Linked DNA regions of Homo sapiens. The protein of the gene in region 3 interacts with the protein of the main gene of each other region in a biochemical or structural test. Each region holds a gene or a part of one and is shown on either strand. Other genes may lie near its edges. The genes, in order: TNKS2, CHFR, GRB14 and PDGFRB.

Region 1 (8,175 bases), on a different chromosome or scaffold from region 3:
GACAGAACTAGACTCCATCTCAAAAAAAAAAAGAAAAATTCCTGTCTTGTGTATATCTGCGTATGGTCGGGGGCAGTGGCAGGCGGACTGAAAAGGAAACAATTTACAGAGTCATTTTTCTCCTAAGGAATTACTTCTTAAATAATATTTATCTAGAAGAAAAGTATGCAATCTAGTTCAGTAATAAAAAAACACCTAGTAGAAGGAAAATTCCTGTTTATGTTGACTATCTTCTTCATTAACAGAATTTAACTCTCTTGGTGCTAGCAACGGATTATTCTTTTAATTGAACTAACTTTTGGGGATGAAATTAAAGCAAATGTTTTCTAAACTAATTTTCATTTTCTGTGGTCTGCACGAATCTCTCAGTCCTAATATTACTTGGGAATCAAAACAAAAAGACAAAAACATGCCTCCCCCAGTAAAATCTCCAAACTTTAATCAGCTAAAAAAATTTTAAAATAATGATGTCCCCCATCACCTCCAATAGCTCACTCTATGACTGAAGTACAAACACAAGAAACTGCTTGATCAGGCAGTTACATAATACCACCACCTGTGTTGAACTTCCAACAGTATGCTTGCAGGCACATTAACATGACTGATAACTCACTACCTACAACAGATTATAAAGTATATTCTCCATATATTAAGTGAAAAGGTAGCTGGATGCACTTAAAAAGCTTCTCTCTGATGAACCTAAAATTCAGATTAAATTTACAAACCCAATTTTTAAAAAAGTTTCTTATATGATTGAAGTGCAGGACTTCAAAAGCTCTGGTTGAATGAAGAACCCCCACTTCATAATTTTTATTACTCCCTTTTTATACCTTTAACTCTTAATCTGATAACCTATACCTGATAATTTGGGTAAGTTGTGAGGGGTGGGTTGGTTTCCAAAATATTAAGTCTTCCAAACTTGAACAAAATGAAACCTATGTAAAAAATATGCTTTGAAACGTTGGGACAGAACTGAAGGTGGGAAGGCAGAGAAGGAACAAGGTCACTGAGGATCTAATAACATAATCTTACACCTCTAAATATTACTATTTTCAGATATGAACTCACTAATACACCAAATTCTTGAAAGGTAGCAACTAAGATCTTTCTTGGTTATTTTTATCCCACAGATCAAGTGAACAGAATCTAAGTAACCCTACCCTTTGGCTTATGTATCAGTTGATCGTGACAGTTTGCCAAATGAGTTGTTTAAATGTTGACTACATGGTCAAACAGGACAACCTAAATTAGCTGAAGAACGGCAGCACTTACCACCGAAATTTCGGGCAAAAAGGCTAACTAGGTGTGTTTGACTTAAGTATTCTTCCTTCTCTTTCCATTGCCCACAAACCGTTTCTAGTTCTCCCACCTAGGTTCCCTAAACTTTCTTCTTTTTAAAAGACTCCCCAATGGAAATCCAACAAAGGTGCAATTGATCAAAAAAGCATACCTCCTGGTAGTATTTACATTTAAAATCTGGAACAGGTTAAAGCGAACAAATCTCCAATTGGTAGAAAGTGTAAAAGTAATATCTGTGAAAGAGGAAATATTTCTCACTGCTCCTTTTCTCTTCATCAATCTAGCCCCAAAAGAACAGGAGTACTTTAAAAGGTATTCCCCGATTTTTCAAAAAATTGTTTTAAACAATCATGAAATACACAAAACAAAAAACCAGGATTGTCAGAGGTAAGAGGAGGTACTCCCATTTTCAATCACGCATGACTCACCTGAAGTTAGAAACAGTCATCATCTTTCCTACAAGTGAACAGCATGCATGCTTTATGGGAATAAGCTGAATATCCCATCTATGGCTCTTTTAAATTTTTCGACTAAATTTAATATGCTTAAATCATAAAGTGAACCTAATAAATATTAAAATAATGTAATTCAAACGATCTAAATTTCAGAATGAAGCAAGGTTAGTCCCAACTTAAATTCTAGATTCAAGCTAAAGTACTTGCACTATCTTTTCTCTTATACTACCACTTTCCGCCCAACTTGTATGTGTGTGTGTCTAAGGCTTCCCGCACCCAGCCTAAGTCAGGTTTCAGTTCTCCCAAACTTGCCTATTTCCCGTTCTAGTCACTCCAGAAACTTGGTAATGATTGGCTATTCTGATAAACCAATTAACGCTAATGTGTCAACGTCCTATTAAGCTACTCCTCCTAAATTACATCCTTGTATTTTACAAAGTCCTTCAAGACCTTAACCCAAATGGAACTTGCAAGAACGAAAAATTTTGGAGGTAACTGACCTTTTAAATCATAAGGTCTATCAACTACGTCCCCTACTCTTTCTTGTGTGTAGAGGCCTTCTAGGGTAACAAGACCGGAAGTTGGTACAGGTATTGTTGATACTGTAAAACAAAACAAAGCCAAAACCCCAAACCACCCCCAACACCTGGCAAAAAAACCAAACCAAGACAAAACAAAAAACTTCCAGCGAGTGTGGCACGCTCACCCTACCCCTAATCTCCTTAGTCCCCACTGGAAGAGAGCGAGATCACCAGGACCAGAGTCCTGGAGAAAGGTCGGGAGGCGGAGGAGCACTGGTTTCAGACCTGTGGGCCCCGGCTGCGCAGGTGGGGTCTGGAGCGAGGCGAGGGGACGCTGGCCCCGGTTACCTGCGGCGAAGTGCAGCGGGGTGGATTTCCTGCCCGCCGTGTCGCGGCTGTTCACCTTCTCAGGCGTCACCAGCCTCTTGACTCGTTCCACGTCCCCGTTGCGGCACGCCTCGAACAGCTCTCGGGCGGCCGGCTCCACGGCCTCGGCCGCGGCGCTCGCGCAGGCCGCTCCCCCGCCGGCGCAGCGGCGACCCGACATGATCCTGGCCGCCGCCACAGCCAGCAACAGCGCCAGCAACCGGAGCAGGAGCCCCGGCCCCGCGAGCAGGAGGGCGAGGCCCCCCGGAGAAGACGCGCTCAGGGCCCGGGCCGCTTGGCTCCCTGCTGTCACCGGATCCGGCGCAGTCCCATGGCCGCGCCCACGCGCGCCCCTCGCTGGGCTCCCTGCCCCCCGGCTGCCCCGCGGCGGCGGAGGCAGCGCGAATCCGCCGTCCGGGTCCTGAAACGACGCGGCGGCGGAAGCTGGCAAGGCCCCTCCTGCCAGCTCCGTCCAGCCCCGGGAGCGCACGTGACGTCGTCCCGCGCGTGCGCAGTGGCCGGGCACCGGCTGGGCAGGTTTCGGCTAGCGAGGCGGCGCGAAGGGTTTGTGGGAAATGTGAGGCGAGAGGCTTCGGCGGCGGGAGAAGGGGCTTCGTCCCACCGCCATCTTTGCGGTGGGTTCTGCTGAAGCCGAACGATCCTGCATATTGTGTTTTTTGTTGTTGTTGTTTTAAGCCCTGGGCTTTCCAGGCTGAACTTTCTCACTACCATTACACTGAAAAAGAGCCCTTGAAAGTTTTGCTCGGATCTTGCACATTCTTTTGGAAGTCTTACTGTGGAAATTGTCCGTGTTTTCAGCTTCCACATCCCTTTCTCCTGGGAGATTTCTTTTCCGTTTTTTTTACTTTGTCTCTTTTCTTTCCTCCGCAACTGCTTTGTTGTTGTTGTTGTTGTTTCTTGTAAACCACTTCTCAAAAGTGAACTAGTTGCCGTTTAATAGAAGTTTGGATGAACTGCCCCCAAAATAAAGGAAATCCGAACAGTCATGGAAGTTGACTCCAATTGGAGGGATGGCTCTGATCAATTACTCTTTCCACAGTAAGTTATTAGCTCAGGATTGATTAGAGGAACTTTTTGTAAATCAATATTGTACCTGACATGCCTAAAGTTTGGATACACTGAGCATACGCATCTCCAAGAAAGTTTTCTGAGTTATAATCTTTTTCTTTGACCAACAAACAAAAGAAAAGCATATAATTGATTTTCATGCTTAAGATACTGGTGTAGTTTTACACGATAATTCCCCACTACACCCCCTTGTCTTAAACTGAAAGAAAGGTATGCCTATACATACATTTTACTTACAGAAGATGATACATGTTGACCTTTGCCATTCTGAAAAGCATCCCCCCCCCAACCTCCTACCTTAACCTGTTTTTCAGGAAATCCAGTTTTTGTTGGGGAATGTTGACTCACTACAGTGCTAAAAGAGGATGTACACTTTTTTGAGCATTTTTATACATATGAAATTGAAGTTATGGTGCTTATCAATAACATGAACATGCATGAACGAACCTAGGACTAGAACACTACCAATATGATTGCGTTTATCATTTTTCTTCCCATAAATCTGCTATGGTGATCTATGATCAGTGATAAGTTGAAATCACTGTTGTAATTGTTTTGAGGCACCACAAACCACACCCATAGAAGACAGCAATCAATCAATAAATGTGTATGTTCTGACTGCCCCACTGACAGGCTACTCTGCCATCTCTCTCCCTCTCCTGGGGCCTATCTGTTCCCTTAAACACAATAATATTGAAATTAGGCCAATTAAGAACTCTGCAATGGTTTTCTAGGTGTTCAAGTGAAAGGAAAAGTTGCGTATCTCTCACTTTAAATCAAAAGCTAGAAATGATTCATCTTAGTGCAGAAGGCATGTTGAAAGCTGAGATAGGCCCCCTTGCACCAAACAGCCAAGTTGTGAATGCAAATGAGAAGTTTTTGAAGGAAATTAAAAGTGCTACTCCAGTGAACACATGAATGATAAGAAAGTGAAACAGACTTACTGCTGATACGAAGAACGTTTGAGTGGTCTGGATAGAAGGTCAAACCAGCCACAAGATTTCCTTAAGCCAAAGCTGAATCCAGAGCAAAGCCCTAACTGCCTTCAATTTTGTGAAGGCTGAGAGACCTGAGGAAGTTGCAGAAGACAAGTTAAAAGCTAGCAGAGGTTGGTTCATGAAGTTTAAGGAAAGAAGCTGTCTTCATAATATAGAAGTGTAAGGTGAAGCAGCAAATACTGATGTAGGAGCTGCAGCAAGTTAACTAGAACAGGGGTCCCCAACCCCCGGCCCTTGGACCGGTACTGGTCCCTAGCCTGTAAGGAACAAGGACGCACAGCGTGAGGTGAGCAGAGAAGGTGCAGGGCGGGGGATGGAGGCAGGGTGGGGATGGGCGGGGAGTGAGCATTACCGCCTGAGCTCCACCTCCTGTCAGATCAGCAGCAGCATTAGATTTTCACAGGAGCGCAAACCCTATTGTGAACTGCACATGTGAGGGATCTAGGAATTTGAGGCTATGGTGAGCTGTGATCATGTCACTGCACTCCTCTACAGCTTGGGTGACAGAGACCCTGTCTCTGAAAACAAACAGAAAAACCAGCTTGAATGGATGAGGAGTTACTTCTTATGGAGCAAAAAAAAATTTTTTTCAGATGGAACCTACTCCTGGTGAAGATGCTGTAAAAATTTTTGAAATGACAACAAAGAATTTAGAATGTTACTTAAACATAGGTGATAAAGCAGGAGCAGAGCTTGAGAGATAGGCTCTATTTTTTTGTTTGTTTTGCCATTAAGTTTCAACACCCAAATAGACTCTAATTTTGAAAGCTCTGTGGGTAAAATGCTATCAAACAGCATTGTATGCTACAGAGAAATCTTTTGTGAAAGGAACAGTCAATCGATGTGGCAAATTTCATTTTAGCTTCTCTTAAGAAATTGCTACAGCCACCCCAACCTTCAGCAACCATTATCAGTTAGCAGCCCTCGATATCATTGCGGCAAGACCCTCCAACTGCAAAAAGATGACAAGTTGCTGAAGGTTCAGATGACTGTTAGCATTTTTTAGCAACAAAATATCTATTTTTAATTTTTAAAATTGTTTGAATTTTTAATTTTTTGGGTACATCACAGGTGTATATATTTATTGGGTATATGAGATATTTTGATACTATCACTCAATGCCTAATAATCATATCAGGGTAAATGGGGTATCAGTCATTTCAAACATTTATCTTTTGCATTACAATCAATTATACTATTTTAGTTATTTTTAAATGTACAATTAGATTATTATTGACTATAGTCACTGTGTTGTGTTATCAAATAATAGGTTTTATTCATTCTTTCTAATTATTTTTTGTACCCATTAAACATCCCCCACCCACTTCACTTCTCAGCCTCTGGTAACCATCATTCTACTATCTCCATGTGTTCAATTGTTTTAATTTTTAGCTCCCACATAAGTGAGAATATGAAAAGTTTGTCTTTTTCTGCCTGGTTTATTTCACTTAACATAATGATCTCCATTTCCATCTATGTTATTGCAAATGATAAGCTCTCATACATTTTTATGGCTGAATAGTACTCCATTGTGTATATGCACCATGTTTTCTTTATCCATTCATCTGCTGATGTACACTTAGGTTGTTTCCAAATTTTGGCTATTGTGGACAGTGCTGCAATAAGCATGGGAGTGCAGATATCTCCTCAATATACTGATTTGCTTTCATTAGGGTATATACCTAGCAGTGGGATTGCTGGATCATATGACAACTCTATTTTTAGTTCTTTGAGGAACCTTCAAACTGTTCTTCATAGGGGTTGTACTAATTTACATTCCCACTAAAAGTGTACAAGGGTTCCCTTTTCTCCATATCCTTGTTGGCATTTGTTATTGCCTGTCTTTTGGATAAAAGCCAGTTTAGCTGAGATGAGATGATATCTCACTGTAGTTTTGGATGAGCAAAGAAAATGTTTTTTACATTTCTCTGATGATCAATGATGTCAAGAACCTTTTCACATGTCTATTTGCCATTTGGGTTTTTTGTTGTTGTTGTTTTTTGTTTTTTTGAGATAGAGTCTCACTCTGTCGCCCAGGATGGAGTGCAATGGCACGATCCCGGCTCCCTGCAACCTCTGCCTCCCGGGTTCAAGCGATTCTCGTGTCTCAGCCTCCCGAGAAGCTGGGATTACAGGCACCTGCCAGCATGACTGGCTAATTTTTGTATTTTTAGTAGAGATGGGGTTTCACCATGTTGGCCAGTCTGGTCTTGAACTCGTGACCTCAAGTGTTGTGCCCACCTCAGCCTCCCAAAGTGCTGGGATTACAGGCATGACCCACCGCGCCCTCTTCTATTTGCCATTTGTATGTCTTCTTTTGAGAAATGTCTATTCAGATCTTTCACCCATTTTTAAATCAGATTATTAGACTTTTTTTTTTTCCTTTTGAGTTGTTTGAGCTCTTTATATATTCTGGTTATTAATCTTTTGTCAGATGAATAGTTTGTAAATATTTTCTCCCATTCTGTGGATTGTCTTTACACATTGTTGATTGTTTCCTTTGTTGTGCAGAAGCTTTTTAACTTGATGTGATCCCATTTGTCCATTTTTTGCTTGGGCTGTTTGTGCTTCTGGGGTATTACTCAAGAAATCTTTGCCCAGTCCAATGACCTGGAGAGTTTCTCCAGTGTTTTCTTTTAGTAGTTTGATAGTTTCAGGTGTTAGATTTAAATCTTTAATCCATTTTGACTTGACTTTTGTATATGGTGAGAGATAGGGGTCTAGTTTCACTCTTCTGCATATGGATATTCAGTTTTCCTAGCACATTTATTGAAGATGGTGTCCTTTCCTCAATATGTGTTCTTGGCACCTTAGTCAAAAATGAGTTCACTATAGATGTATGGATTTATTTCTGGGTTCTTTATTCTGTTCCATAGGTCTGTCTGTTTTTATACCACTACCATGCTGTTTTGATAAGTCAGGTAATGTGATTTCTCCAGTCTTATTCTTTTTGCTCAGGATAGCTTTGGCTATTATGGGTATTTTGTGGATCTGTATAAATTTGAAAATTGTTTTTTTCATCAATGTTTTTTAGTTTTCATTGTAGAGATCTTTCACTTCTTTGGTTAATTCCTAGGTATTTAATTTTATTTGTAGCTATTATAAATGGGTTAATGGGATTACTTTCTTGAATTCTTTTTCAGATTGTTCACTGCTGGCATATATAAATGCTTCTGATTTTTGTATGTTGATTTTGTATCCTGTAACTTTACTGAGTTTTGTTTTGTTTTTTTTGAAACAGGGTCTAACTGTGTCATCCAGGCTGTAGCGCAGTGGTGTGATCAGGGCTCACTGCAGCCTCAATCTCCTGGGCCGAAGCAATCCTTCCACCTCAGCCTCCTGAGTAGCTGGGACCACAGGCATGCACCATCATGCCCAGCTATTTTTTTTTTTTTTTTTTTTTTTTTTGAGATGGAGTCTCCCTATGCTGATCCTGAACTCCTGGGC
Region 2 (7,240 bases), on a different chromosome or scaffold from region 3:
CACTAAAGACAGCATTTCTTCTCCTCCTCAGCCGTGGCACACAGCACAGAGCACGAAGTCAGGCTTCTTAAGCTACAAGAAGAAACACCAAAAGAAGCTCAGAACATACTCACCTGGTATCTTCCAGTGTCACCTGACCTGATTTTTCATCCACTACAATTCTACAGTGATCTCCAGAGACCAGTTTATTGCTGGGGAAGGAAAGGTCGCAACCTAAAAAAGAGAGGGTGGGTCAACACGGGATATGATCGTGGTAACTGTGAACACTACTGCACTTTGTTTACCAAAGTATGTGGTTCCAACTCAGGATCCCCATTGTACATATGTAAAAAAAAACACTTGACCAAGAAAGACATAAAGAAATTTTTTTTTTTTTCTTGAGACGGAGTCTCGCTCTGTCGCCCAGGCTGGAGTGCAGTGGCACCATCTCGGCTCACTGCAAGCTCCGCCTCCCAGGTTCACACCATTCTCCTGCCTCAGCCTCCAGAGTAGCTGGGACTGCAGGCGCCCGCCATCACGCCTGGCTAATTTTTTGTGTTTTTAGTAGAGACGGGGTTTCACCATGTTAGCCAGGATGGTCTCGATCTTTTGACCTCATGATCTGCCCACCTTGGCCTCCCAAAGTGCTGAGATTACAGGCGTGAGCCACCGCGCCCGGCCCATCCTGAACCTTTCTGAATCCCCACCCTCTCAAAGACACCCATCAATACCTCCAGTTACACACAGCCTCTTAAATGGCAATTTTACAGCCAGGCGCAGTGGCTCATACTTGTAAACCCAGCACTTTGAGAAGCTGAGGTGAATGGATCACGAGGTCAGGAGTTCGAGACCAGCCTGGCCAACACAGTGAAACCCCATATCTACTAAAAATACAAAAATTAGCTGGGCATGGTGGCGGTTGCCTATAATCCCAGCTACTTGGGAGGCTGAGGCAGGAGAATCGCATGAACCCAGGAGGCAGAGGTTGCAGTGAGCTGAGATCGCGCCACTGCACTCCAGCCTTGGCGACAGAGCTAGACTCCAACTGGAAATAAAAAAAAAAAAAAGCAATTTTACAATATGCTTGCATACACAGCTAACCTGATGAGTATTATTAGAACTTTAAAAAAACTCAGGGGGTTGGCTAGGTCCGGTGGCTCACACCGAGGCGGGCAGATCACAAGGTCAGGAGATCGAGACCATCCTGGCTAACACAGTGAAACCCCATCTCTACTAAAAATACAAAAAATTAGCCGGGCGTGGTGGCGGGCGCCTTGTAATCCCAGCTACTCAGGAGGATGAGGCAGGAGAATGGCGAGAACCCGGGAGGAGGAGCTTGCAGTGAGCCGATATGGCGCCACTGCACTCCAGCCTGGGTGACAGAGCAAGACTCTGTCTCAAAAAAAAAAAAAGAAAAAAAAAAACTCAGGGGCTTAAGTAATTCTTCAGTATCTTAATTTAGTCCTTAATTTCTTTTCTGTGTAAACTTAGGTTTCATAAATCAACATAAAATTGAAGCAATGACAGTCACAGAAAAAGTGACTGAGCCAACTGTGATAGGCATTTGTTTTTTTTTTTGTTTTTGTTTGTTTTTTTTTTTTTGAGATGGAGTCTCGCACTGTCGCCCAGGCTGGAGTGCAGTGGCACCATCTCGGCTCACCACAACCTCCACCTCCCAGGTTCAAGCCATTCTCCTGCCTCAGCCTCCTGAGCAGCTGGGACTACAGGCATGCGCCACCATACCCAGCTAATTTTTTGTATTTTTAGTAGAGACGGGGTTTCACCATGCTGGTCTTGAACTCCTGACCTCTTGATCCACCCGCCTCAGCCTCCCAAAGTGTTGGGATTACAGGCTTGAGCCACCGCACCTGGCCTGCGATAGGCATTTGTACACGTATAAGAAACTGCATCTTATATACAGGGATGCATCTATAGCTGAATACAGTAATTCTGACACTTTGGGATTTTTTTTTTCTTTTTTTTTTTTTGAGACGGAGTCTCTTTCTGTGGCCCAGGCTGGAGTGCAGTGGCACGATCTCAGCTCACTGCAACCTCTGCCTCCCGGGTTCAAGCGATTCTCCTGCCTCAGCCTCCTGAGTAGCTGGGATTACAGGCGCACACCACCAGGGCCAGTTAATTTTTGTATTTTTAGTAGAGATGAGGTTTCACAATGTTGGCCAGGATGGTCTCGATCTCTTGACCTCGTGATATGCCCGCCTCGGCTTCTCAAAGTGCTGGGATTACAGGCGTGAGCCACCAGCGCCCGGCCCTGAATACAAAAGCAAGAGGGAAAATCCTCAATACTTGCCCTCTCCTTAAATCAAAAGAACAAAGGCGTTTTAATATCTCATCATTAATCATTACTGCCTATAATAATCTATAAGGATACATAAAGATACTAGAAGACAAAAAAGCGAAGGGTTTGGTCAGGAGACAGTGGCATGCAAACATACTTTTCCTAAACGTTCCACACAGAAAGACACCCTGAATCTGCTTTAGCCTGAGCCTTGCTCCCATCACTGACCTATGGGTGTGTGAATCAGAAGACTCAGTATTGTTAAAATGTCAGCTGTCCTCCAGATTGTTTCATACATTCAATGCAATTCCAGTCAAAATCCCAGAGGGCTTGTAGACACTGACAAGCTGATTCTAAAGTTCACAGAAAAAACGTGTAGAAAAACCAAAGCAATTTTGAAAAAGAATGAAGCTGGAAGACTCATATTACTTAACTGACTTACCATCATGCTATAGTAAACAATACAGTATTGTGGCTGTGTAAGGATGGCCAGACAGAGACAAATGTAAAATCTAAAACTATGAAACTTCCAGTGGAAAAGACAGGCAAAAATCTTAGTGCCGTTGGGTCTTGCATGGACTTCGCAGATAGGATATAAAAAGCACAAACCAGGAAAAAATAATAATAATAAGCTGAGGTTTGTCAAAAGTAAAATGTGGGCCAGGTGCCGTGGCTCACACCTGTAATCCCAGCACTTTGGGAGGCCAAGGGGGGGGCGGATCACAAGGTCAGGAGATCGAGACCATCCTGGCTAACATGGTGAAACCACGTCTCTACCAAAACTACAAAAAATTAGCTGGGCGTGATGGCGGGCGCCTGTAGTCCCAGCTACTCAGGAGGCTGAGGCAGAAGAATGGCGTGAACCCAGGAGGTGGAGCTTGCAGTGAGCCAAGATGGTGCCACTGCACTCCAGCCTGGGCAACAGAGCAAGACTCCGACTCAAAAAAAGAAAAAAAAAGTCAATTCTGGGCCAGGCGTGGTGGCTCACACCTGTAATCTCAGCACGTTGGGAGGCCGAGGCGGGCGGATCACAAGGTCAGGAGTTCAAGACCAGCCTGACCAACATGGTGAAACCCAGTCTCTACTAAAAATACAAAACTTAGCCAGGCATGGTGGCGGGCGCCTATAATCCCAGCTACACGGGAGGCTAAGGCAGGAGAATGGTGGGAACCCAGGAAGCGGAGGTTACAGTGAGCCGAGATCACGCCACTGCACTCCAGCCTGGGCGACAGAGCGAGACTCTGGCTCAACAACAACAAAAAAAGTAAGGCTGGGGGCGGTGGTTCACGCCTATAATCCCATCACTTTGGGTGGCCAAGGCGGGCGGATCACTTCAGACCAGGACTTCGAGACCAGCCTGGCCAACAGGATGAGACCCCATCTCGACTAAAAATACAAAAAATTAGCCGGGCATGGTAGCATGCACCTGTAATCCCAGCTACTTGAGAGGCTGAGGTGGGAGAACATGGGAGGTGGAGGTTGCAGTGAGCTGAGATCGTGCCACTGCACTCCAGCCTGGCAACAGAGCGAGACTCCATCTCAAAAAAAAAAAAAAGTAAAAATCTGTTCTTCAAAGATATTGTTTAAAAAGATGAAAAGACAAGCTATGGACTGGTGGAAATATTTGTAAAACACATATCTGACAAAGATCTTGTATCCAGAATGTATAGAGAACTCTGATAACTCAATAAATAGAAAGTAAATAATGCAACTTAAAACAATTTAAACACTTTATCAAAGAAGAGATATGGATGGCAAATTAAGCACATGACAAAATGCTCAACATCATTAATCTTCAGAGAAATGCAAATTAAAACCATGAAATACCACTACACACCAAATAAGAATTGGCTGAAAATACTGACCACGGGCCGGGCACGGTGGCTCACGCCTGTAATCCCAGCACTTTGGGAGGCCGAGGCGGGCGGATCACATGGTCAAGAGATTGAGACCATCCTGGCCAACATGGTGAAACCCCGTCTCTACTAAAGATACAAAAAAATTAGCCGGGCATGGTGGCACGTGCCTGTAGTCCCAGCTACTCAGGAGGCTGAGGCAAGAGAATGGCTTGAACCCGGGAGGCGGAGGTTGCAGTGAGCTGAGATTGCGCCACTGCAAATCCAGCCTGGCGACAGGGCAAGACGCTGTCTCAAAAAAAAAAAAAAAAAAAAAGACTGACCACCTACAAGTGGCCAAAAGGGAAGTGGAAAACCTGGAACTCTCGTACTGTGCTGTGGGACTGCAAAATGGACAAGCACATGGGAAACAATGCGGCAGTTTCTCAGCAAGTTAAACAGACACTGGCCACGTGGCCCAGCAATTCCATTCATAGTTACTTAGCTAAGAGAAAAATGTATGTCCCTACAAAGACTGCACACTTATGTTTATATTAGCTTTATTTCTTACAAAAACAGGAAGCAGTATAAATGTCCATCCACTGGTTGTAAACTAACAAGCCATGGTGCATCCAAACCACAGAACACTACCCGGTAACAGAAAGGAGCAAACTGCTCATCCATGCAACAAGGTGCGTGCCAGGGAAAGAAGCCAGGCGCAGAAGATGATGGCAGACACCCTGTGACCCTGTGTCACGACACGCTGGAAGCAGCAGAAGGCAAAGAAACCAGATCAGTGGCTGCCAGGAGCCGGGACTCAGGGGGACCTTTCAGGGTGACGAACATGTTCTACATCTTGACTGCACTGGTGAGTACATTTCCCAAAACTCATGGAACTGAACCCCAAAAAAGGTGAATTTTACTACAAGTAAATGATACTGCCATGAAACCGGATATTAAAAATCTTATTTGTGCAAACATTCTGTACTATTGGAAGTACTGTATCCAAGGCAAGTATCACCTGTGGTCAAGCTCTTCCCATTCCATTGAGCGTTAACTGCCAGGACAGTCTCCTTCAAGCCCCAAAACCAGTGCAAGTCACGGTGTCGCCAGAGCCAGTTTGTAACAGAGGCGTCTCCATGCCAGAACATCAGGTTTTTTTTTTTTTCTTTGAGACAAGGCCTTGCGCTGTTACCCCAGCTGTGGTGCAGTGGAGCAATCACAGCTCACTGCAGCCTTGAACTCCCAGGCTCATGTGATCCTCCCACTTCAGCCTCCTGAGTAGCTGAGACTACCAATATGCACCACCACGCTCAGCTAATTTTTTAAGTTTTTGTAGATACAGGGTCTATGTTGCCCTAGCTGGTCTCAAACTCATAGGGTCAAGAGATCCTCCTGTTTTGGCCTCCCAAACTGCTGGGATTACAGGCATGAGCCACCGTGCCTGGCCTGAATATCAGCATTCTAATCTGGAACCGAGATGCTTTGTGCTAAAGTTCTATTCACAGCATTTGCTGCGCTTGACGCTTGGTGGGTTAAATCTTTCAAGCAGTTGATGTACATTTCTGCCACTCTCTTAGAATAAAGAGCTCTTGGCTGGGCGCGGTGGATCACACCTGTAATCCCAGCACATTGGGAGGCCGAGGCGGGAGGATCACCTGAGGTCAGGACTTAGAGACTAGCCTAGCCAACATGATGAAACCCTGTCTCTACAAAATACAAAAATTAGCCAAGCATGGTGGTGAGTGCCTGTAATCCCAGCTACTCTGGATGCTGAGGAAGGAGAATCACTTGAACCTGGGAGGCGGAGGTTGCAGTGAGCCGAGATCACATCATTGCACTCCAGCCTGAGAAATAGGAGTGAAACTCCGTCTCAAAAAAAAAAAAAAAAAGACTGGGCGCAGTGGCTCACGCCTCTAATCCCAGCACTTTGGGAGGCCGAGGCGGGTGGATCATGAGGTCAGGAGATCAAGACCATCCTGGCTAACATGGTGAAACCCTGTCTCTACTAAAAATACAAAAAAAATTAGCCGGGCATGGTGGCGGGTGCCTGTAGTCCCAGCTACTTGGGAGGTTGAGGCAGGAGAATGGTGTGAACCCAAGAGGCAGAGCTTGCAGTGAGCCGAGATCGTGCCACTGCACTCCAGACTGGATAAAGAGCTCTTTGGGAAAACAAGGTTGTTGCACCCCTTCCTACACGTTACCTAGGCTTTCCCTTTTCCCCCAAATAATGCCTTATAAATGGCAGGCACATCATTGCTTTAAAATAATCAAGTTCTGTCTGGGCGAGGTGGCTCATGGCTGTAATCCCAACGCTTTGGGAGGCCAAGGCAGGTGGATCATTTGATTTGAGGCCAGGAGTTCAAGACCAGCCTGACCAACATGGTAAAACCTCATCTCTACTAAAAATACCAAAAAACTAGCCAGGTGTGGTGGCACACGCCTGAAATCTCAGCTAGTCTGGAGGCTCAGGCAGGAGAATCACTTTAACCTGGAAGATGCAGGTTGTAGTGAGTGAAGATCGCACCACTGCACTCCAGCCTGGGTGACAGAGTAAGACTCCGTCTCAAAAAATAAATATATCAGGCCGGGCACAGTGGCTCACGCCTGTAATCCCAGCACTTTGGGAAGCCGAGGCGGGTGGATCACCTGAGGTCAGGAGTTCAAGACCAGCCTGACGAACATGGAGAAACCCCGTCTCTACTAAAAATACAAAAAGTAGCTGAGCGTGGTAGCACATACTTGTAATCCCAGCTACTCGGGAGGCTGAGGCAGGAGAATTGCTTGAACCCGGGAGGTTGGAGGTTGAGCCAAGAAGGCACCACTGCACTACAGCCTGGGCAATAAGAGCAAAACTCCGTCTCAAAAAAAAAAATACATATATATATATAAAATAAATAAATAAAATAATCAAGTTCTACAACTGTTAGGAACTGAATGTTTGTAACTGAGTGTCTGTACCCCCCTAAAATTCATATATTTAAGTCCTAATCCCCAATGTGACTGTATTTGGAAATGGGGCCTGTGAGCTGATAAATGTTAAATGAGGTCACTAGGTGGGAATCAGATGTCACAGGGCTGGTGCCCTCTTAAGAGGAGGCAGAGAGAGCAAGCAGAGTCCCCCTCTCTG
Region 3 (7,240 bases):
AAGTGTATGTAGAATGAACCAAGATAAGCTAACACAGAAGAAAGGAGGCCATTTATGGGGCTCCTGTAGGTGAGAAGACAATGGCTAAATTAGGATGGTGGCAGCAGAGATGGGGAGATGTATATAGATTCAAGCCTACTTTGATGAAAGATGAAGCAGTACTTAACAAGAACAGAAAGTGGACTCCTTAAATTTTGGCTTAAGTAATCAAATAAATGATTTGAGGGTGGAGAAAGATAAATTTAGAGAATTCAGAGGTTACGACCACCCCGTACCTATTAAACCAAGTAGAGCCAAATGTGTATTGGACCTATGCCGGCCTCAAGTGGTCACATCTTATCTCGTATCCTTATTTCTAAGTTTAGATGCTTGGTCCTGTACTTTAACTTCACCACTTGAGCTGGCTCCTACTAGATGTGATTCCTTTTCTGATTCTTCTTCTAATATTTGAACTATGACTTTGCTGCAGTTTCTAGTTTAACCAGACCCTTCTGCCCCAATTATTTCCATGAATGTGACTCCTGTGCTCTTTGTCCTATGACACCCCAAACATACTCTTTATCACAAAAAAGTGTGGTCACTATATGGGAATACCTGAACAGAGGCTAAGAGGGAGCTTCTAGGGCTAGTGGAACAAAAGAAACCCTGCTTTCCACGACTCCTGTATCTGCTGCACAGGAGCCATTACTGCTTCTGGAGCCATCAGAATCACTTGCTCTAGGAATACAATAAAATTGTAGAGCTCTCAGGTACAGAAAGGGTGAGCAATGGGCTGATATAACACCCCTCATCTGTAGTAGGACTGTATTAAAAACTAGGTTTGCTGATTCCTGTTCCAATATCTTTCAGTCACATCATATTGACACATCTTTCCACAGAAGCAATTTTAAAAACGGTACACGCAATGTTGTAAGAGCACTATACTTTGGAGCCATTATGGATTTTAAGGCTTTGGCCTGACCACCTAACCACTGCATGTAACAATACGTCTATGGAAAAATGTATGTGAATAAATGGCCAATTTATTAAAGATCTTCTGGAATACAAGCATTTGTAAGCTGGTTAAGAATATTAAACCTCCTATTTGTGTTTATTTTTTCTGTGGCTTTGAAAAAATGTTAAATGAGTGGGCCAAAGAAAAGGACAAGAATTAAAGGATGGTCTCCCTATGTCAGTCCTGCCATTTCTCTTCTAAATTAATCCTGAACCCTTTCTTTCTACTCCCTTGCCTTGGCAAAGACTTGTGGCCATTCTCTGGGGTCTCCCTTGAGCTGACCTTTATCTGTAATGTCAAAAGGACAATTCTCAGGTCTGCTTACCACCATTGAAATACACATAAGCATATACTTATACAATAGAGTTTATTACTATTTGACATAAGCTGACGTTTTTTCAAAGCAATATCCATAAGACTGCAGAAATCTTTTTTATATTAATTAAAATCCACACTTATATTGAACCATGATGACTCCAATTTTCTTTCTCTTGACAGAACATATTATATGCCCCAGGGAAAAACAAACCAGAAGCTGAGATTTCAATAACGTTAAAAAGAAAACCCATATTGTAGATAAAGCTTGGACTGCAAATGTACCCTGCAAATTAACCAAAAATTAAAGGCAACCTTCAAACTAGAAATAAAACCTTGACAAATAGAAGATCTGCTAGGGGATTTAAGTTTTAAAATAGGAAAAGAAAGCTAACTTCTCCTACAATGAAGGTAACTAGCATAAGGTGGGAAGGAACCTGAGTTGGTAATTCCTGTCATCAGGGGTTAAGGGACCTCAGTAAGACGTAAGCTCAGGAAAATGGACAAGGAAGCTGAGCATCCCTGAAGGGTGACATCAACTGAAACAACTGCCCAATAAGTATGCTTCACGTACATTAAGTGAATTGAGACAAAGGAGCTGAACACTCTGAACTGGGTACGTTAAGTCAAATAAACCAATTGGTGGATCATCATATATCATACAAATATGATTAGAATTAGTTTTTGTGTCCTGTTTGAGATCTTTTTTTTCCCCTAGGACACTAGCTGCCCCTAGGACATAGTGCCTCCATATGCCATACCTACTAAACCTGTACCTCTTTCTCACATGTTACCACACCCTTGCAGACTGAACAGTGGTCCAGGGCCCACTGTCCCCTTGGCCACATCTGATTGAATAGGATCTGGACACACTGGACTAACATACCTCTCCAGATACAGTTCCCAGTCAGTTACCAAGTACTGAACCACTAATAGGTGGAAAACTTGGGAGCAGCCACTTGAGGCCGCTGGCACTGACATGAAATCAGGGCAAGCAACACTGCAAAGAAATCTCAAAAATGATGTGAATTTGCAAGGAGAGGCAGAGACTATGTGGTATGTTTGTGGGAGAACAAAAGAGAGAGAATAGAGAAAGTGGTTGACTTGATTTTTGCTGACTTTCTTGCTCCCAATTTCAGCCTCTCATGAGACCAGTGACCTTTTGGCCTTCAGGTACTACAACACAGCCTTTCAGGCTGGTTCATTTGAGGCTCTGTTTTGTCTGAACAATCAATACCTGGCTAAAATACCAACTAAAGGCCATTTGTAACATACTCACCTTTGTCAACAAAACACAACTGTCCTCAGTTTTGAAAGGTCCAATTGCCCCAGTTTGAAAATGGTAGAGATTAAGAGTAGCACTGATTTGTATACATATCAAAGAGAAAAAAATATAAAAAATCAAATTCCTATAACCTCCCCCAGAACATTCCTATTCAGTGGGTTTTGCAAGAGGTCCAAGTATCCATATTTTTAATAAGCATCCCTGCTGATTCTGAAGAAGGTGATTTAATGACCACACTTTGAGAAGCGCAGCTGTAAAGCCTGCTTCAACACTGCTACAAAGATCTGCACGCTTTCAAATTCTCCCAAAAAATTATATTCATCAAGTGACAGCACTCAAAAGTAGCAAATTGCCGTTGGAAAGATAGATTTGTTTGAAACCCTAATAGGAGAGAGTATTGTTTCTATCATTCTTTCTGCATATATGTTTTGTTTCCAATTAAATGGGATTTTGTAAAATAGCTCAGAGGGCCTAAATACAATTTATGATGTTGTTTCCATCTAAAAATGAATTTAAACTTCCAAAGAGCTAATTTTCAGACATTTGAAAGCTAAGCAGTTTGTAATTTGAGAATTTCATGAGCCATTCCAACTGAGAAAATTCAATTATGAATGGTTTTAGACGATATCAAGGAATTGCTGTTATTTATGTTAGGGAATAATGGCATTTGGGATATAAAAGAAAATTCATTTTTCAGAGATGAATACAAAACTACGTAGAGATGCAATGATGGGGTGTCCAGGATATACTTCAAAATACTTTAGCAAAGAAAATAAAATTTTTAAAAAAGAAATAGATGGAGTAAATGAGGCAAAATCTTGATAATTGCTGAGTCTGGAAAAACTACAATATGTACATGGGTTTCTCTTCTTTTACTTCTATGTATACTAGAAAAATAAGTATATGAAATTTCAGTTAATGTAGCAGCCACACAAGATTCCTATAGGACCACACATACAAGTTCAGCATGTCCAAAGTGGGGTAATTACTGGCATCACAAAGGAATGATATAAGAGGCCCTTTAATTTGGGGACAGAGATCTGCTTATCCTTTGAAAGTCCGTGACATGGTAGAGAAAAAAGAAATAAAAGGCCGAGCATATGGAAAACTAATTTTTTAATTATTTGAGATAAATTTTTATTTTTCTGAGACATACAAAAAAAGGCTTAATTTAATAAAGAATACACTAGAAACAGTGTGGTAAGGGACAGGACACATTGAGACATGATACTCTTTTTGATCTCCCTTTATTTAAACTGTGGAAGCATGGGCAAATCCCTTCCAGTTTTTGCATACTCTTTTTGTAATCTTAAAATGCAGGTGACATACTCATTTTCTTGTGTTCCCATGAAATAATATCCTGTGGACCGTAAACCACACACAAAAGCTGGTTATTAATAATACTAATAAATCTTATTTGATAATAAAATCAAATATTTGATAGATTTCTCAGACCAATTTTAGGGAGAAGATGGAGAAGAAAGCTAGAAGAAAAAACGTAGTTACATTTCGGGAAGAAATAAAAAGAGGAATTCCAGGTCCTTAGATGAATATTAACAAATGGCGTTTGTCTCCCCTGTTCTTCTTGTGTTATGAGGAGAGTTGTAACTAACAACACTGGTACACATGTATTATTATACTACTCTTATTTACAGTCCTTGCTTTCTTTAGAAATTGTACCTTCCTAAAAAGGGACTGTCAAAGCCTCAAGAAATCCAGATTTCAGGTGCTGGCTGTGCCACATAGCATTCCTTAAACTCAATTTACGTATCACTAAAGAAGAATATTGGAATAGAAGATCTGAAAAATCCCATCCAACTCAAACATTTCATGACACTGGTTTTCATAGCATTTTTTAAATCTCTAAAGCCTTCAGAGGCTTTATTCTTACTTAGTTGTACAACATAGTCCTGGGAAGCAATTAACCAGAGCTACTACACAGGCTATGTCCAAGCACAAAAATTACCTAGGGGTCAACAAAAAAGACAAGAACTGATTCTGCTGCAAGAGCTAAATAAAGATTTCTAACTCTTTGCTTTCCTTCAAACAATAGGTGTTTAGGGTTCATTACTAACAGATGATTTCCTTATAAATTTAAATCATAAATTAGAAAAAAGAGATTAAGTTCATAATGGAAGTCACTTTTAATATAAGTAACTTTTCTGGACCATGTATGTAAGGGAAGGTATACTTTAAATTTGCTTTATTAGTAAACACAAAGAAAGATGCCTAGGAAATCTGGCCATCATTATAAAAAGAGGGAAAGGGAATAAAGAATATGAATTCTCGCGGGGCACAGGGGCTCATGCCTGTAATCCCAGCACTTTGGGAGGCCAAGGCGGGTGGATCATGAGGTCAGGAGATGGAGATCATCCTGGCTAACACGGTAAAACCCTGTCTCTACTAAAAATACAAAAAAAATTAGCTGGGCGTGGTGGCAGGCACCTCTAGTCCCAGCTACTCGGGAGGCTGAGGCAGGAGAATGGCATGAACCCAGGAGGCAGAGCTTGCAGTAAGCCGAGATTGTGCCACTGCACTCCAGCCTGGGCGACAGAGCGAGACTCCGTCTCAAAAAAAAAAAAAAAAAAAAAAAAAGAATATGGATTCTCTCTCACTCTAGCTTTCATTTAAAAATAATGGTACTGAAAGCCTACAGTATTGTACACTTTGGGACATTTTATTTGCAAAAAGTGATAAAACATATCCCATTTGTGGCTTCAATGCACTTTACCACTCATGCATTATGTAGGCATCTCAAATAGTAAACAAAATTTATGACTTGTAAGATGGTTTTTGACTGTGATTTTGAAAGGCCAGATGAAATTTAACATTTTTAGTCTGGATTCTCTCAAATTTTCTGGTCATTGATTTGTAAATAACAAGTACAATTATTTTCTTCACTTTTTCTGTGGAGAGAAAAGAATCACTAAAATGACTGGAATGGTTAAACAGGACAAATGAGAGAGAATATAAAGTAAAGAGACATCTTCTCCTATAATATTTCAACCATAAATAATACTCAGTAGAACATATCGCATAGTCACTTACATCATCTCAACTGAAGGTTACAGATAAACTGGGCCAAAAACAGCATCTTGTAAAAGGGTAATATGTGTTGCAAAGCTACTGAGTTGGGGGACTCACTTACATAGAGTCATCTATTCTCAAAACCTTCCTCATTTCAAAGAACTGAGTGTGTATAAAGAAACTAAAGCAAAAGGATCAGTTCTAAATGCAAAGTCTAGGTGGGGGAAAAAGGAAGCATAAAATAAAGTAAAAAGCAGCCTCCCTCCTCCTCAACTTTGGGGTACCCTTGTCTTCATAGAGATCTCAACCATTGGGCCAAGGAAGAGATCAGCAAGAAGGGCCCTTCAAAGGTAGGGACAGCCCTCTGGGATGGATCTTTAAAAATCAGGCGGGGACTCTCTGCTCAGGGAACAGTACAGGTGTGTGTGTGGGTACAGTGTTCTTTGAGAAGGTCATTGTGGACACAGGATACAAGGCCAGAGCAGGAAACCTATTGGGGTCAATAACAATATCACCTTTTCCCCATTTCCAGTTTGCTATTTTTTTTTTGCCCATTTTCCAGTTTAAACCTGATCTGAGGAAATGTCATCAATCTCTAAGACGTCTTACTCTAGTCTGATGACTATCCACACTTAGGGCACATCCTGCCTTAACCCTGGCACTTTACCCATTCTTTCTCTTTTGTCCCCTATACTAACATAAGCATACCAACACCTCTTCTCACTTTCTATTCAAAACAAACCCTGCATCATCAACAAATCTCTCAGACACAGGCATTCTGCAAGTGTCCATTCATAGCATTAAAGTGAGTCAGCCCAGATATCCTTCCCTTTACTTTCCTTCTGGTTCAGGCTCCACCCGCTACCACAACCCCAAATCAAAGCCCCATCTTTTAAATATATCTTGCATGGTATTGTTGCTTAGCTAGGGTCCTTACTGCCTAGGATTTGTGAGAAACATAGCAGGCCCTTAGTAATTTGGGAACTACCTATTAAATTCTTCCAGATGACCATTATGTCATCATCAGACATTTCCTTTTCTTACTCTGGCTCAAGGACAAGCCAGAATCTTTTTTTTGGGGGGGGGGGGGTAGTGTCAGCGGGGGACAGATTCTCGCTCTGTCGTTCAGAGTGGAGTGCAGGGGCACAATCTCAGCTCACTGCAGCCTCCGCCTCCTGGGTTCAAGCGATTCTCCTGCCTCCGCCTCCCGAGTAGCTGGGACTACAGGTGCAGGCCACCACACCCAGCTAATTTTTGTATTTTTAGTGGAGACGGGGTTTTACCATGTTGGACAGGATGGTCTCAATCTTCAGACTTCGTGATCTGCCCGCCTCAGCCTCCCAAAGTGCTGGGATTACTGGGATTACAGGCGTGAGCCACCGCACCCGGCCTCTTTTTTTTTTTTCCACTACCATGGCACACAGTCAAATCTATTATCCTTACTTCCATTTTCTATCCAAACCAAAAAGTCAACTCTCAAAGAGCTTGGAAGTTTCACTAGGGCTGTTTTTTCCTTGGGATCTGACTTTAAACCTCATCCTGATAATAAAGGTCTCAAGAGAGTCTCCTCTTTGTCTCCCCAAACAAAGTTACAGTCCCACCCACTTAAGGGTTTATTC
Region 4 (7,240 bases), on a different chromosome or scaffold from region 3:
AAAAAATAAAAGTTAATTAGCCAGGCGTGGTGGAGGGAGCCTGTAATCCCAGCTTCTCGGGAGGCTGAGTCAGGAGAATTGCTTGAACCCGAGATCGCGCCACTGCACTCCAGCCTGGGCAACAAGAGTGAAACTCCGTCTCAAAAAAATAAATTAAAAAATAAAGTCGTCAGCCTTATCTTTTCGCCTTCTTTGTCCCAACTTCTCCTTTCACTCTTTCACGCTGTCTTTTGAGCTGGGTAAAGCTGAAGCTGACAGTTTGAGTGGGAAACAGTCACTCCATTTTTCACAGAGCCCTACAGTCTTAGTACATTCCCTCTATTCACATCTCCCCCACCTTCTCTGCAATTGCACACCTCCCATGACAGGGCTCTCACCACCTCACCTGTGGCCCATTTCATTCTTAGCCAGCTTAGAATCTTCAGAGGGCAGACTATTGAGAATTGTTAATTACACTGAGTACAGTTTATCTCACTGTATTCTCTGCTTATTGGTCTTGCTTCTATCCACCAACCACCCTCTCCCCAAATACAGGACATCTTTCTAGTTATTGTTCTGATCCCCCCCAATCTGGAAACAAACAAAAGTCCCTACTAATTTAGAGCCAGGCACTCTGCTAAATGAGATGATCTGGAGATTTTGTTTCATCCTCACGACCACCCTGTGAGGGGGGTACACTCATTATTCCCATTTTACAGAGGAGAATGATGAGTCTCAGAGACTTTTGGTAACTTTCCCAAGGTCACACAATAAGTAAGATGCAAAGGAACGGGAATGCAAACTCAGGCCGGCCTGACTCCAAAGCCTATATTCTTTCTTTTTTTTAGAGACAGGGTCTCGCTCTGTTGCCCACGCTGGAGTACAGTGGTGTGGTGGCATGATCATAGCTCACAGCTCACTATAGCCTCAAACTCCTGGGCTCAAGTGATCCTCCCGCCTCAGCCTCCTGAGTAGCTGGGACTACAGGTGCGCATCACCACAACTGCCAAAACCTGAATTCTTGCCCGTCATGCCAGACTGTCTGTCTCCTGACCAGAAACAGTTCTGTCCATCTGTCCACAGAGAAACGTTCTCCCTCTAATGGCGTCCATACGGAATCCAGGATCTCAGGGATGAGAAGATCCTCAGGGATCTGGGTCCCGCCTCTGCTCTGACTGAGGGGCAGTGTATGCGGGAGGCCTGCCCCGGGTCACCAATAATTTTAAAGTCGAGCTAGGGATAGAACCCAGGACTAGGGATAGAACTCCACAATTTCGCTGCAGAGGCTGAGGGTGAGCACACAAGGCTGAGGAGAGAGTTTTTGCTTAGGAAAGCCAGGGTCTGGCAGGGGCAGTGCTCCTGCGGGATACAGCATCCAGGCAATCAGCCCAGGTGTGTGGCCGGCTCTGCCACAGGCCTGCTGTGCACAGGGTCCAGGCCTGCCCCTGTGGGGGCCCCAGCACCCCCTTCCACTGTTTGCAGAGGGCCAGGGCCTCTGTAGCTGCAGAGTTCCAGGCCTCCACCATCCTGCTGCTGCCCTCCCCATCCCCACCCCCCAGAGCCTCATCTCCGGCCGGTGCCATGGCAACAGGGAGTGCCAGGCCCTTGGCAGCCAAAGGAGCCCCTGAGAGGGGTCCCAGGCTGAGACTGAGGAGGGGGGTGCGGCAGGCGCAGACAAGCAAACCTTCTGTTCCCCGGGCTGCTGCCAGCCCGGAGCAGCCATGGGCTGGGGTGGGGGCCGCAAATAGAATGGGTTCTCAGAGCCAAGTGGGCAGGGGACAGGCAGGCCTTGGGCCATTCACACTGACCCACCAGCACACAGCCTTCCCCCACAGGCCCAGGGCCTGCAAATAGGGGAGGGGTAGCTAGCTAATGAGTAAACCCTTCACTTATCAGTGCCAATTACCAAACATTGAGATTCCCCTCAGAGCCCTCCTGGGCGGCAGAGCAGGAGGGCAGAGAACCCCCATGTTTCACTGACCCTCTCACTGTCTCAGCATCTGTCCTCCCACCCCTGTCTTCGGTCATTCACTTAACCACCCCTCTGTGCCTCAGTTTTCTCATCTGTAGATTGGGGCTCATCACTGGGTTGTCAGGGCTATTGAAGGAGTTAACACAAGCAAAATGCTTAGAATAGGGCCTGGCACACAGCCCTCTGCAAAGTTGGTGGCCACATTATTATTATTCATTCACTCAAGGGAGAAGAAGTCACTCACTCACTCGGCCTTGCGCGCACAGCCAAGACTCCACGGGACTAGGCTTCTCAGCAAAGTGATGCATGTGATAAATGAGACGGTGCAAGAAGGCCTCTCCCAAAAGACGCTCCTCAGGAAGAGGTAGCTGCTGATTATTGGTACAATCAGTAGCAACAGCCCTTTTCAGTGTCCTGAGGCTCAGTGAGGAGTGTCTCATCCTAGCACACTCGGCGATTCGGTGGCCAACCTAAGGCCAGACCCATCTAATCACCACTGTCTGTCAATTACTTCTTTCCTGAACTTTTGTCTTAGTCCTTTAATATGACTTCCCACAAATCAGGATACCTACCTAACAACGATCTGGACTCTCTTCAACTTCCTAATATGGAATTAGGCCTACAGTAGGTGCTCAGTAAACGCTTACACGATATGAGAGATTAAATGGCTCTGTAGGGTCAGCTCTTCAGTCCTGGGCCCTCGGCTGCCTCCTAATAACACAGGATTCACTAGGCTAGGGAACTGGCATGGATAGGCAATGGTGACTCTTTCCTTCCAGGGAGGTGATGGAGATGAGCTGGTGAGGGCAGAACAGACATATGGCACTCTGAAGCCAACAGGCTGCGCCTGATGCCATCCAGGGCAGGGATGGGAGCCCCGCCAGGCTGGGAGCAGTGGTTCCAGCTGGAAGCCACTTATTCCTGGGTCCAAGCCCCAGTTCTCTGAGTTTAACTTATCTGAGTCCCAATTTCCTGGGAAATGGCATGGGAGACCTCCTTTTCCATTTCTGGGAGGGCCAGAGATGATGACGCACAGCACTTGGCACATCATAGGTGCCCAGTAAATGGTGACTAACAACAGTATATGATTACTCCAGTGGGGAGAGCGGGTATGGCTTCCTGAGGGAGGTGGCCTTGAGCTAGGCCTCCAGGGTTTCTTGAGTTTTTTGGCAGATGATGCCAGGGAAAGGTATGGCCAGGGCTCTGTGAGAGATGAAAGGCATCTGGGAGAAATGGCAGGGAGAGATCTGTTGGGCTAGAAACTGGGGCTCTTCAGCAAACAGGTAGGTGATGGCCTGGGAAGGAGGCAGCAGGAGGCCAGGGAAGGAGGCAGGGAGACTTCAGGAAAGGTCTGCGGTGCTGTGTGAGGATTTTCTCTGGACCACCAACTTTTCAAGGTGTTGATAGTGATGGCGGGTAGTAGCTGCTGGCTTGGCAGGGCAATGCTGTAACTCCAGGCACTGTGGGGAGGGGGCCTCCATGCAGGAGGATGACACCAGCAGGCTGGCATTTAGTGGGAGGCTGTGGATTAGGATGGGGACAGTGGAGGCTGCAAGGCCAGTGTTGGGGATGAAGCCGTCCCAAACTCAGCCTGAACTCCCTGGCAGGACAAGCTACATAATTTGTGGGGCAAGCACAAAATGGAAATGCAGGGCTCTTTGTTAAAAATTATTAACAATTTCAAAATGATGACTGCAGAGCATTAAACCAAACATAGGCCCTTCTAAGCATGGGGCCCTCAGGAGGATGAGTACTCATGAAGCCATCTCTGTGCCCTGGACTAAAGGGGAGGCCATCTGTCTGTCTCCATCGATTTATCCATCCATCCATCCATCCATCCACCCACCCACCAATCCATTTATGCATCTCTACATGCATTTATTTATCTAGTGATTATTTCACTATCCATTCAGCAGATAGGCCCTGGGTTGGACACTGATAAGGACACAAATACAGGTGAGATGGGAGCCACCCACAGTCCACCAGGTCAAACCTGCACCTTTACCTTCAATGCTCTGGGCCAGGAGGGGCCAGGGCTTCTGTGACATGTTTAGAAAGCTGAGCCCTACCCCTCTAAGGCTAACTGGAAACCCTGCCCCACCCTATAACCACTGAGGCTCAGCCTCAGAAGTGAAGAAGCTGGTGGTGTCACTGCCCTTGGGTTTCCACTTCTCAGAAGGGAAGGTAACAGAGCAGCAGCAATGAGGATGTGGCAAAACAGTCACAAGAAGCATGGTAGGAACTCTCAGGGGCTAAGGGCAGAGCTGGATGGACCTCTGGGGGCCACTAAACTTCTCCCTTGGCTTCTCCCCACTTTATTATAAGAGGAAACTATGATTAGAATGAAGAAGTGGTATGGCCAAAAGCTCGGGGGTCCAGCAAACCACCCAGGAAGATTCCCATTTCTTGTTGGGACGGCTTTGCTCCTTTTCAGCCCATAGCCCAGACAGACCTGGAGGCTGAGCCCTGAACCACAGAGGTGGAGCTGGGTCTCTCCAGGCCTTCAGAGAGATGGTAAAGACCCAGCACCTGTGGTGGAACAAAGGCGAGCCCAGGTCCCAGGCTCAGCGTCATCACCAATGATCTGTACGGACCTTAGGTGCAACCCTTCCCCTCTCTGGACCTTAGTTCCCATCCATACAATAAAGCAGTTGGATCAGGTGACCCCCAAAAGTCCTTTTCATCTCTGACATTCAGGAACTTTCAGACCCCCTGACCCTCCCAAGGGACAGCCCTCTCCATCACAGGGCGGAGAAGCTGGTACCTCTGGCAGATAAAAGGTTTCAGGCACCTGAGACATCAAATAGCCCTGATCTGAATTGAGGAGAGGAGGGGATTTTAATGCGGTTAAAGCAGTACACTTTGATTTTCAGCCTCCTGCACCAGGCTGGGGGTGGGCTACCCCAGGAAGCATCTGGTGGATGTAGGGGGCGGGGGCAGGGTGGGCTCTGGGGCTAAGGCTTGGAGGTTCAGGAAGACTTTATCCTGAGGATCTGGGCCTGAGGGCTCAGGAGGGATGTGAAGTGGGCTTCCACACTGGAAGCAACAAGCATGGGAATTTCACACCCACTCCCACCAGAGGTAGGTCCCTGTGTCCATTCCCCCCCTCACCTCTGGATCCCATCACTCATCTGGGCCAAAGCCTTGCTTCCTCTTGAAATTAGAGCATATGAGGTTTGAAAACGCAGCACTGGAAGAGACCTAAAGGGTTACAGCATCCACACACAGCCCCTAGTGGGCCTTCCTCCCCGACCCTCCCTGCTCAGTATCTCAGGAAAATGGGCATGTGGGAACTGTAGGAGCCCTCTGAGCTCCTCAAGAAACTGAGCACGTTAAGGGGCCACACTAATTGTCAGAAAGTTCCTCATTGTTATTGCAGGTTAAAGTTTTCCATTAGTGGTCATCGATCCTGACCTCTTTCTGTAATGTGTAGAAAAAGGGTAAGAAAAAAACCCTTTCATTGTGAAATTAAATATGCATGATCCCTGAGTACACAGCAAGGCTTGTGCAGCTGCCAATCTGGGCTGGCATGGCTTGGAATCCTGAAATTGTTTTAGGGCTGGAAGAAAGATTTACCATCATCTGGGTCAACCTCCTCGTTTGACTGATGGGAAAACTGAGGCCCCAGAAGGGAACGATCTGTGCACAGTCCCATAGGGTTCTAGGGTCTGATGACTACCTCTGGAATGCTGAGGGCCCCCACAGCTGAGGCACATTCTCAGGGTTTACACTGGATCCCCAGGGGCATCCCAGGCCCCATCCAGCCTCTCATCAAGGGGATCTGGAGTCAGAAACACCCAGGTGCAAATCCCAGCTCCGCCACTTCCGAGCTGTGGGACTTTAGGCAACTGACTCTGCGCACTTTCTCACCTGTAAAATGGGGAGAGTTTAGCTGGGTGCGGTGGCTCACGCCTGTAATCCCAGCACTTTGGGAGTCTGAGGCAGGCGGATCACTTGAGGTCAGGTAGTTCGAGACCAGCCTGGCCAACACGGTGAAACCCCATCTGTACTAAAAATATAAAAATTAGCTGGGCATGGTGGCGCACACGCCTGTAATCCCAGCTACTTGGGAGGCTGAGGCAGGAGAATCACTTGAGCTTGGGAAGCGGAGGTTGCGGTGAGCCAAGATCATACCATTGCACTCCAGCCTGGGCAACAGAGTGAGACTCCATCTCAAAAAAAAAAAAAAAAAAAAGTGGGGAGAGTTTATATATCTAATTTTGAGGTTGCTGTGACGGTTTATTTATTTATTTATTTATTTTTTTTGAGACAGTCTTGCCCTGTCGCTTAGGCTCACTGCAATCTCCGCCTCCTGGATTCAAGCAATTCTAGTGCCTCAGCCTCCTGAGTAGCTGGGATACAGGTGCGCACCACCACGTCTGGCTAATTTTTGTATTTTTAGTAGAGACAGGGTTTCACCATGTTGGCCAGGCTGGTCTCAAACTCCAGACCTCGGGTGATCCACCCGCCTCGGCCTCCCAAAGTGCTGGGATTACATGTGTGAGCCACCGTGCCCAGCCTCGATGGTTAAATTAATCCAGTAAATATTTACTAAGAATGTCCTGAATGCCCAGCATGTTCCAAGTGCTGAGGAATACAGCAGCAACTTTGAGGTAACAGATGTAAAGCACAATTGAAGTAGACACAGAAAGTGCTAAGAACGAGTTGGTTCCTGTTATATCATCATGCTCACACTGCTTCCCAGCTGAGGTGCTACAAGCCCTGACCCTGGGAAGGGGCCCAACACCCCTTCCCTTCCCTCCTAACGCTCTGGGTCAGAAGACAGGGGGCACCAAAAAGATTCCCATTCCAAGAACCCACTGCCCACTGGGTTCTGAATCAAATGCAAGAAATGGGTGGGCATTTCAGAAGACCTTTTCATCCCTTTCTCCCTTCCCACTGCATTCAGCAGCAGCCTGTTCTGAGCCAATGCCCAGAGCACCCTCCTTTAGCCTAGAAGGCAGCTGGTCTCAGAGTCAGACTGTGGCCTGTGCCTGGAGGATGGACACGGATCTTTGGAACATACATGGTGTCCAGGTCCCTTCTGTGGGCAGAGCCTTTTGCAGGTTGCAGATTAATTTCACAGCCAAGTGTTCCAATGCAGGAGGCCAGGAGAGCAGTGGTTCTCTCAGCCAGTGGCCAGAGGTCCAGCTGTGAAGTGCAGGAACTGTGGTAAGCACCTTGCCAATGCTGTTGTCTCATGGAGCCCACACACGGTCCTGCTGCTCACAGAGAAGGAGATTGAGGCCCAGAGAGGCAAGGTGCTGCCCCGGGGTCACACAGTCAGCC

The links.
Region 1: the proteins of GRB14 (region 3) and TNKS2 form a complex in vitro, tested with the Homo sapiens proteins (one study listed by BioGRID).
Region 2: the proteins of GRB14 (region 3) and CHFR form a complex in vitro, tested with the Homo sapiens proteins (one study listed by BioGRID).
Region 4: the proteins of GRB14 (region 3) and PDGFRB form a complex in vitro, tested with the Homo sapiens proteins (one study listed by BioGRID).

What each region holds. Positions count from the first base shown.
Region 1 is NC_000010.11:91,793,338-91,801,512, reverse strand, and holds the start of TNKS2 (poly [ADP-ribose] polymerase tankyrase-2), read right to left. Parts: upstream 3,088-8,175; 5' UTR 2,823-3,087; coding exon 2,624-2,822; coding exon of another isoform or gene 2,561-2,623; intron 1-2,560. UniProt on the Homo sapiens protein: Poly-ADP-ribosyltransferase involved in various processes such as Wnt signaling pathway, telomere length and vesicle trafficking.
Region 2 is NC_000012.12:132,877,442-132,884,681, forward strand, and holds part of CHFR (E3 ubiquitin-protein ligase CHFR), read right to left. Parts: intron 214-7,240; coding exon 114-213; intron 1-113. UniProt on the Homo sapiens protein: E3 ubiquitin-protein ligase that functions in the antephase checkpoint by actively delaying passage into mitosis in response to microtubule poisons.
Region 3 is NC_000002.12:164,611,262-164,618,501, forward strand, and holds part of GRB14 (growth factor receptor-bound protein 14), read right to left. Parts: intron 1-7,240. UniProt on the Homo sapiens protein: Adapter protein which modulates coupling of cell surface receptor kinases with specific signaling pathways. Binds to, and suppresses signals from, the activated insulin receptor (INSR). Potent inhibitor of insulin-stimulated MAPK3 phosphorylation.
Region 4 is NC_000005.10:150,145,736-150,152,975, forward strand, and holds part of PDGFRB (platelet-derived growth factor receptor beta isoform 1 precursor), read right to left. Parts: exon of another isoform or gene 6,604-7,240; intron 1-6,603. UniProt on the Homo sapiens protein: Tyrosine-protein kinase that acts as a cell-surface receptor for homodimeric PDGFB and PDGFD and for heterodimers formed by PDGFA and PDGFB, and plays an essential role in the regulation of embryonic development, cell proliferation, survival, differentiation, chemotaxis and migration.